Linked DNA regions of Homo sapiens: region 2 is linked to region 1. Evidence: fine-mapped expression QTL. A gene starts in region 1. The other region holds a variant in brackets. All regions are shown on one strand. Distances are from middle to middle. Region 1 holds the start of THAP10 (THAP domain containing 10). Region 2 overlaps LRRC49 (leucine rich repeat containing 49).

Region 1 (4,000 bases):
TGGGAGGATCGCTTGAGCCTGGGAGGCAGAGGTTGCAGTGAGCCAAAATTGTGCCACTGCACCCCAGCGCCCCAGCCTGGGTGATACAGCTAGACCCTGTCTCAAGAAAAAAAAAAGTGTAAATGTCAAAAAAAAAAAACAAAAAAACCCTTACCCTTTTGTAATCAATAAAATCACATTAAGTTTTTTAAAGAGGGCTATTTTAGCTTTATGTAGGCAGAAAGTAAGAACTAGCTTTAAACTGGAAATCAAAGCAAATCTACTTAAATTTTTCAGTTTAGAATCTATCTACACTTTAAGTCATGCTGCTATTTGTGTAGAATTTAAAACAATCTTCAATTTAAATGCCAACCTTCTTAAATCTTACTTTGTTTTTTTCAGGAAGCGATGATGTTTGAATAACCAGATGAAGCCCGCAGTTCACCTGAAATGTAAAAATTAAACCATAAAATTTGCTCTTAATACACAAACACATATTTCCAAAAAAAAAAAAGGTACAAACAGAAATACAACAAAAAAATAGAACACAATGCTCTATTTCTGTTTCTGGTAAATGATCTTGTTCTGAGGATTTGCTGAAAACAATAAAATCACATCTAAGAATTAAAAGGTTTCACTGATTTATTTTCCAAAATGTCGGCAGCAATTTAACCCTCTAGTTAGTACCTCAGGCTTTCGACATTTGCCATTCAGGTCTAAATAAACATCTCAATGAGACAGGTGAAGGAGGTGGGAGTCCCTAATGATAAATTCTCTTCACAGTTAAAAGGAAAAGAAAAGAAAAAGGAATTGACTGGCCAAAGGAATTTAAATAAACCCAAGCCTTTCACAGCAGACCAGCTCCACCTTCTGGGGAGCCCAGATCCTGGACAAGACTTTGAGTACCCATCATACAATATTAAATTGTGCCTTGGTCCAGCCCACGAACCTCAAACCCTGGTCAGACAATAGCTTGAGTAGACCCAGCGGTGCCGGTCCTAATAATACAGCCCATCTCCTAGGACAAAGACGCCAGTCAGAAAGAGTACCAGTGGGAAGAAAGAGAAAGTAGAAGGCCCAACTTACGTTGTTCGCAGCCCGGCCAGAAACAGAGCGATATTTCCCGGGAATCATGATAGGAGACAGTCCAGGTTCTCTGTTAGATCTGCCTTCCAGGTGACGCTACAGCGGAGATTCAAAGAGACCCGAAAGAGGTCATCTCCCAGGCAACCTGCTCAGGGTTACCATGGAAACGACCATTTCCGGTCTGGACCTCTCCCGAATCGATAGAGCCACACAGTCGTTGCAGCTTCTAGTTGTATTCGTGAGAGCCCAGTGCGTCACCACTTCCTCGTTCTATTTTCCCAGCCTCATAAAAACAGAGCGGGAGTATTGGGAGGAGGATAAGCTGGGGAAGAGGCTGGCCACACTGGTTGCTATAACCACCACCACTTCCGGTCCGTTCCTCTTTACGGCCCACCTCAGCGCTGCCCGCGCGAAATTTGTATCCCTCTGCTTGTGTCCACTGGCTCCTGGGGAGCAGCGCAGGGAGGAGGAGGAGGAAGATATCAAAGAGCCCTCCCATTGGGGGCCCCAGATCGCCACTTCCGGTGACCAGAGGTAGGGAAGGAAACAATCCCGACCCGGAGTGGACAGGTGAGGAGGGGAGGACTTGCCTCGCCGAGGCCGCTGCGAGGAGCGTGCCCAAGGGCGAAGGTCCAGGGAACCCGGCTCCCGCGCACCGAAGACGGCCGCCATGCCGGCCCGTTGTGTGGCCGCCCACTGCGGCAACACCACCAAGTCTGGGAAGTCGCTGTTCCGCTTTCCCAAGGACCGGGCCGTGCGGCTGCTCTGGGACCGCTTCGTGCGGGGTTGCCGCGCCGACTGGTACGGAGGCAATGACCGCTCGGTCATCTGCTCTGACCACTTTGCCCCAGCCTGTTTTGACGTCTCTTCGGTTATCCAGAAGAACCTGCGCTTCTCCCAGCGCCTGAGGCTGGTGGCAGGCGCCGTGCCCACCCTGCACCGGGTGCCCGCCCCGGCACCTAAGAGGGGAGAGGAGGGAGACCAAGCAGGCCGCCTGGACACGCGAGGAGAGCTCCAGGCAGCCAGGCATTCTGAGGCTGCCCCAGGTCCAGTCTCCTGTACACGCCCCCGAGCTGGGAAGCAGGCTGCAGCTTCACAGGTAAAGAGAGACCACCGAAGGTTGTGTAAGGACCCCTGGACTCTGGCTGGGCTCCTCCACTTAGTGTCACCTTGGGAAAGGCACCTCATCTCGAAAGTTCCTGTTTTCTAATCTGCAAAGTTAGGGGTGTGCTTTAGAGGTGATCTCCAAGGTCCCACTTATCATTAACACTTTGGAATTAAGTGACCCAGTTAATTCCTTCTAACTGCTCCTCCCCCAAAACTCACACACACACACACACACACACACACACACACACACACACACACACACACAGAGTCTTGTCCTGCAGAGTAGTGAGTTGCTTTCACTCGCTGCTCCAGAGTTTTTAAATAGAAAGGGTTTAATTTGAGCAAATCTCCAGGATTGGAGTGCTTGAAACTGTGTTGCATAACATTACATAAGCTTGAGGAAAGTCCCTTATTTGTGTCACAAATGATGGGGCGAAGGAGATGTGGAGCTACAGATGAAGATGATGGAGCTTGCTAATAAATCCCTTCCCACCCCAAGCTTCCTTTATGACTGATAACTAGCTCCAGCTGCCTTTAAGTTCAGTATCCCTAGTGAGCTGACTTTCCCCATCTTGCTCTCTTCTGCCTACTTTTCTGTTCCTTCTAAACATTGTTTGCACTCATTTTGCATCTGGTTACTACTACCTTCTTCCCCACGTACCATTTTAAAGAAAACTTTCCAGCCTTCCTTGTGATAAACTTCAGCCTTGCCACCATTACACAGATTAAATTATAGCAAGAGGTTAGTAATTTCCTCAGGGGTCTGTAATCCTTACTTAGGTCCGGTTGCCAGACCAACACTCTTTCTGCAGTACTAACCTGCTTCCTACATTGGGGTGGGTATTTAAGACCCTTTAATGGCATCTTGCAATTATTAAGATAAAGAGCAAAATTATTAACCCAATTTACATGGCCCTGCATGTTTTTTCCCCCTGCATACCACACTAGCCCTAACCAAGGCCACTGTCCCTGTTGCTCACTGTGTACCATCATGCTGACCTTTCAGTTCTTGGACATACTATACTATATTACTTCCTACCAACAAGACTTTGCTCAGTTGTTGCATGTATTATAATATCCTGGAACTATGCCCCTCCCACTCCCATCATTGCCAATTAAGTCTTTTTCCCTTAAAAATCAGCTAAACATCTTTCCCCTTGATCCCTTAGTTATGTACTCTCATTCTTCGTGTACTCCATGTGATTCAATAGCACAGATACTTCAGTAGCACTTACCATAATTGCCATGAAATAATTGTGTAGTTTGCTTAATATTTGTTTCTCATATTAGAATGTAAGCTCCATGAGAGCTAGGATCATGTCTGATTTCTTTGCCATTGTATTGCAGTGCCTAAAACAATATTTTACAAATTTAAGTAATTCAATAAATATTTATGGAATGATTACATGACTATAAGAACAAATTTTTGCATTATAATTGAATTTTCAATTATCTGCCAGTTTCCCTCCTCACCAAGCTGTATACCTGTCAAGATAGCTGTCCTTTCCTTGAACCATCTGTCCACCATCACCACCTATACAAACTTTGCCCAAACATATACATCCACATACATATATATGTGTGTAGCAAGAGAGATAAATACTAAACATGTGCCACACACATCCCCCTACACCATTTTTCTTCTTCATAATTACACAACCTAATCAAAAATTGGGAGAAGAAAAGCCAAGCTAGTCAAACAACCAAAGTCTTTATAACCCATAAAAACTAACCGTTGGGAAACAGATCCAGCATACATAATAAATCTGTTTTCCATTTAGTAAGTATAACCAGCCAACATTTATAACAATCCATAGTACATTAA
Region 2 (4,000 bases), 41 kb before region 1:
CATCTTCAGAGATTATAAACACCTTCTAAGACATAACTTTTTTCAATAAAAATAGAAAACTCAAATTCCATCAGGATATAATTTGTGAGAAAAAGTTTTTTAAGTTTATTTGACAAAATTATAATTATTTAATCTCTGTTTATGAGACAAAATTTTACGTCTTTATCAAATTTTAAAAATCATTAAATGTCATTGCCTAGTAGAGTTATCAAAAATATAAAAATATTCACAAGTTGAAACACTAAAATGCAGAATTCAATTCTATATATCCTCATAATCACTTACATAGATACCCTTTCCAGAACTTTAAAAAGCAAATAATTATACACAATCATTTTTCGTTGTTCCAAATTTCATTTCTGTAAGAAAATGTTAACTTTTCTCCAATTTTTTAGCAATTCTGTGATATACTTTTGTAACAAAATTCTAGCATTATAATAGACAAAAAGAAAACACCGTATTTACCGTATCAATTATCTATGCATGCATTATTTACAGAAGAAAGACCTGTTAAAAACTACTAGGGGATGGCTCCTCTAATATAAGAGAGTAAACAAAAGATGGGATATATATAAGATTCAGGGAGTACAATTCATCATCTAGGAGAGGCAAAGAGAAATCCAAGGATGAAATCTGTATAGCAGGGCTAAATGCAAGCAGACTTCATTAGACAGGGGACAGGAGGCTCTAGAAGGGTATCTCCAAGAGGTAAAAATGAAACACAGATCACCTGAAGTCTTTGCCTATACAGAAAGGGATTTTAGGGTTTTGTTGGAGAGTTTGGACATTAATGATAGTTAAACAAGCCCTAAATTGAGACAGCTATTAATCTCAGGGAAAACAAAAGTTTAACATCATGGTCCAAGACTCACTTTGAAAACCTCACCGTGCTTTGTCAACCATCCTAATCTATTCTATCATAAATGTATCCATTTTCATTAAGCCCCTGCATTGAAAGACCCACCCTAAACCAGAACCCCAAGAAATTTCAAACTAAATCTCCTGTCTCTGCCTTCGAAGATACAGCCAAGGCTATGTCAAGGCAGTGTGCTTTTACTTGCCAGTAGTAATTTCTCCTTTGCTTTATCAACTAGTCATTCTGGCGGTACTCTGCAGGAGCCAGCACTCAACAATCTGCTTACCTAAAAATTATTTCGGAATGACAGGGAAAGTGGAAATGGGGGTTAGGGATAATGTAAGAAAGGTAAATTCTCATCTATTTAAGAAAAAGTATTTATTTTACTGTCAAGCATTAAATACCCCTAACATATCCTTTCTGGAGGTAACTATTTCAGCATCAGAGAAACTATAACAAAGAAGCCAGAATGTTAACATACCTAAGATGAGAGGGAAAAAAATGAAATAAAATGTTTACATGTAGGGGAATATTTATAGCTCGTTATTAATTTCCTCATTATCTTAAATTTATTATTTTTAATAAAACATAATACTGAAAATAATATTCAAAACATTTTTTGAAGTAAAATTCAAAACTATTTTATGTATTTGGAAAATATAATCTTTTAAAAAATAGAAAAAATTATTTACCACAAGATTATTTGAGAGGATTATAATTCTTTATTTTCCAAAAAAATACTGATTTGTTTTCTGAGAAAAATGCTTGTCCTACTCTGCTCAGGCACTGTTGTCCATATCCCTAAACTGCATAAAAGAACTAAATGGCCAGGTGTGGTGGCTTGTGCCTGTAATCCCAGCAATTTGGGAGGTGAGGTGGGTGCATCATTTGAGATCAGGAGTTCGAGACCAGCCTGACCAGTGTGGTGAAACCCCATCTCTACTAAAAATACAAAAATTAGCCAGGCACGGAGGCGTGTGCCTATAGTCCCAGCTACTTGGGAGGCTGAGACGGGAGAATTGTTTGAACGAGGGAGGCGGAGGTTGCAGTTAGCCGAGATTGCGCCTCTGTACTCTAGCCTGGACAACAGAGCAAGACTCCATCTCAAAAAAAAAAAAAAAAAAAAAGACAGAGAAAGAAAAAAGAAAAGAAAAGAACTAAATGATTCAGCAATCTGATCACGTGGGGAATATCTATCACTGGAGCTATTTTTAGAGCAGCTTCCTCTAGAGGAATAAGGAAGAAGAAAGG[T/G]GAACAGATTTTGACATGCACCAAGGATTCTGACATGCAACAAGTAGGGCAAAGATGTCTATAATAAAATCATAGCTACTCTCATTTTTACTATGTAGGCTTTCATACAAAACAAGTTAGAGTAAAAATATATAGGGGTAATTATTCTAACTTTGAGAGCTGTAAACAGATTCATTCACAAAGCATCAAACAAGCTTGGAAACAAAAAACAATGAAGTATTCCTTTTTAAAAAAAAGACTTATTAAATTAATTCCAAAATAACTACTTGCTTCACCTATCACTTTGTGACACAGACACTTATTATATGAGGACTAATAGCTGCAAGCCATCATATTAAAACTCTAATCATATATATAAATGCCAATGAAAAAAGTCCATTATTTGGCAGTTATCCAAAGGCATTAATGGGTTTATCTGGTTTTTGTACTTGTTTACTACCCATTACACAGCAATAGATATCAGTCAATTCACCAGTCTGATTTTCTTCTACACACTGTTTTAATACCCCAGAGCAAAAACTGAAAGGGAACTTAAAACCAGACCAGTAAGAAGGCACTGATATGCTGACTAATTAGGGAAATGTCCAGTCTTTATAATCTAGGAGAGCTAGATTTAACAGCTTTGAGGAAATCAATAAAAAGCCTCAATTTCATAACCATAGGCTTTCCCTCACTGGAATTTACAGTTCAAACTTACATCACAAACATAATCTAAAAAGACCCCTCATAAAAAATGGTACCTGGCATTCATGACCCTAACACTCCTGGCAAAACTGTCTAGAAGGACACGAATTCAACTCAGGCTTTGCAACATCCTGACTATTCCAAACTATTAAACTATAAAGAAAAAATTACCATGAGTAACAGTCAGTAGAACTTTCAGGCAACAGATGAAGAAATGCCAAAAAATTAAGAAAATATAGTAACTTGATAAAGACTATGGAATATTTATCTTTAAATTTATAAGAGCAATGAAAAAAATTAAAAACAAGAAAAAATAAGGTACATGCATGCCTCGTTTAATTATGCTTTGCAGATATTGTGCTTTTTTTTAAATTTTACAAATTGAAGGTTTGTGGCAATCCTGTATCAACCAAGTCAGTGCCATTTTTCCAACAGCATGTGCTCACTTCGTCTCTAGGTCACATTTTTGTAGTTCTCACAATATTTCAAATTTTATTATTATTATATTTGTTATGATTATCCGTGATCAGTGATCTGTGATATTACTATTGCAATTGTTTTGGGGCATCACAAACTGTGCCCATAGAAGGTTGCAAACTTAATCAACAAATGTGTGTTCTGACTGCTCCACTCACTGGCACTTCCCCCATCTCTCTCCCTCTTCTTGGTCCTACCTTTGCCTCGAGGCACAACAATATTAAAACTAGGCCAATTAATAACCCCTACAATGGTCTCTAAGTGCTCAAGTGAAAAAATGAGTTACAAGTCTCTCACTTAAAATCAAAAGCTAGAAATGGTTAAGCTTAGTGAGAAAGTCATGTTGAAAGCTGAGATAGGCTGAAAACCAGGCCTCTTTCACCAGCTAGCCAAGTTATGAATGCAAAGGAAAAGTTCTTGGAGAAAATCAAAAGTGCTACTCCAGTGGAACACACAATTAATAAATAAAAACAATAGGAAGAAAGTTTGAATGGTCTGGAAAGATCAAACCAGCCACAGTATTCTCTTAAGCCAAAGCCTAATCCAGAACAAGGCCTTAACTCTCAACAATTCTATGAAGGCTGAGAGAGATAAGGAAGCTGCAGAAGAAAAGCTAGAAGCTAGCAGAGGTTGGTTCATGAGGTTTAAGGACAGAAGCCATCTCCAGAACATAAAAGTGCAAGGTGAAGTAGCAGCAAGTGCTGATGTCAAAGCTGCAGCAAGTTACCTAGA

The links. PIP is the estimated chance that this variant, and not a neighbour inherited with it, causes the effect. A credible set is the group of variants that fine-mapping cannot tell apart.
Region 2: its variant is the best candidate, but not a certain one, in a credible set for the expression of THAP10 in whole blood (TOPMed, PIP 0.89).

Annotation. Positions count from the first base shown.
Region 1 is chr15:70,890,008-70,894,007 of GRCh38, reverse strand. It overlaps THAP10 (THAP domain containing 10), which reads left to right and starts at 1,575. Exons shown (of 3, transcript NM_020147.4): 1 at 1,575-2,164. The coding sequence starts at 1,736. LRRC49 (leucine rich repeat containing 49) reads right to left here and starts at 1,182. Exons shown (of 16, transcript NM_017691.5): 1 at 1,066-1,182; 2 at 368-424. The coding sequence starts at 1,113. RefSeq lists an enhancer at 1,222-1,920.
Region 2 is chr15:70,930,710-70,934,709 of GRCh38, reverse strand. The region is part of intron 7 of LRRC49 (leucine rich repeat containing 49); the gene reads right to left. Among named protein-coding and RNA genes, the nearest start is that of LRRC49, 40 kb to the right of the region's middle. The variant T/G (reference allele first, on the strand shown) is at 2,108.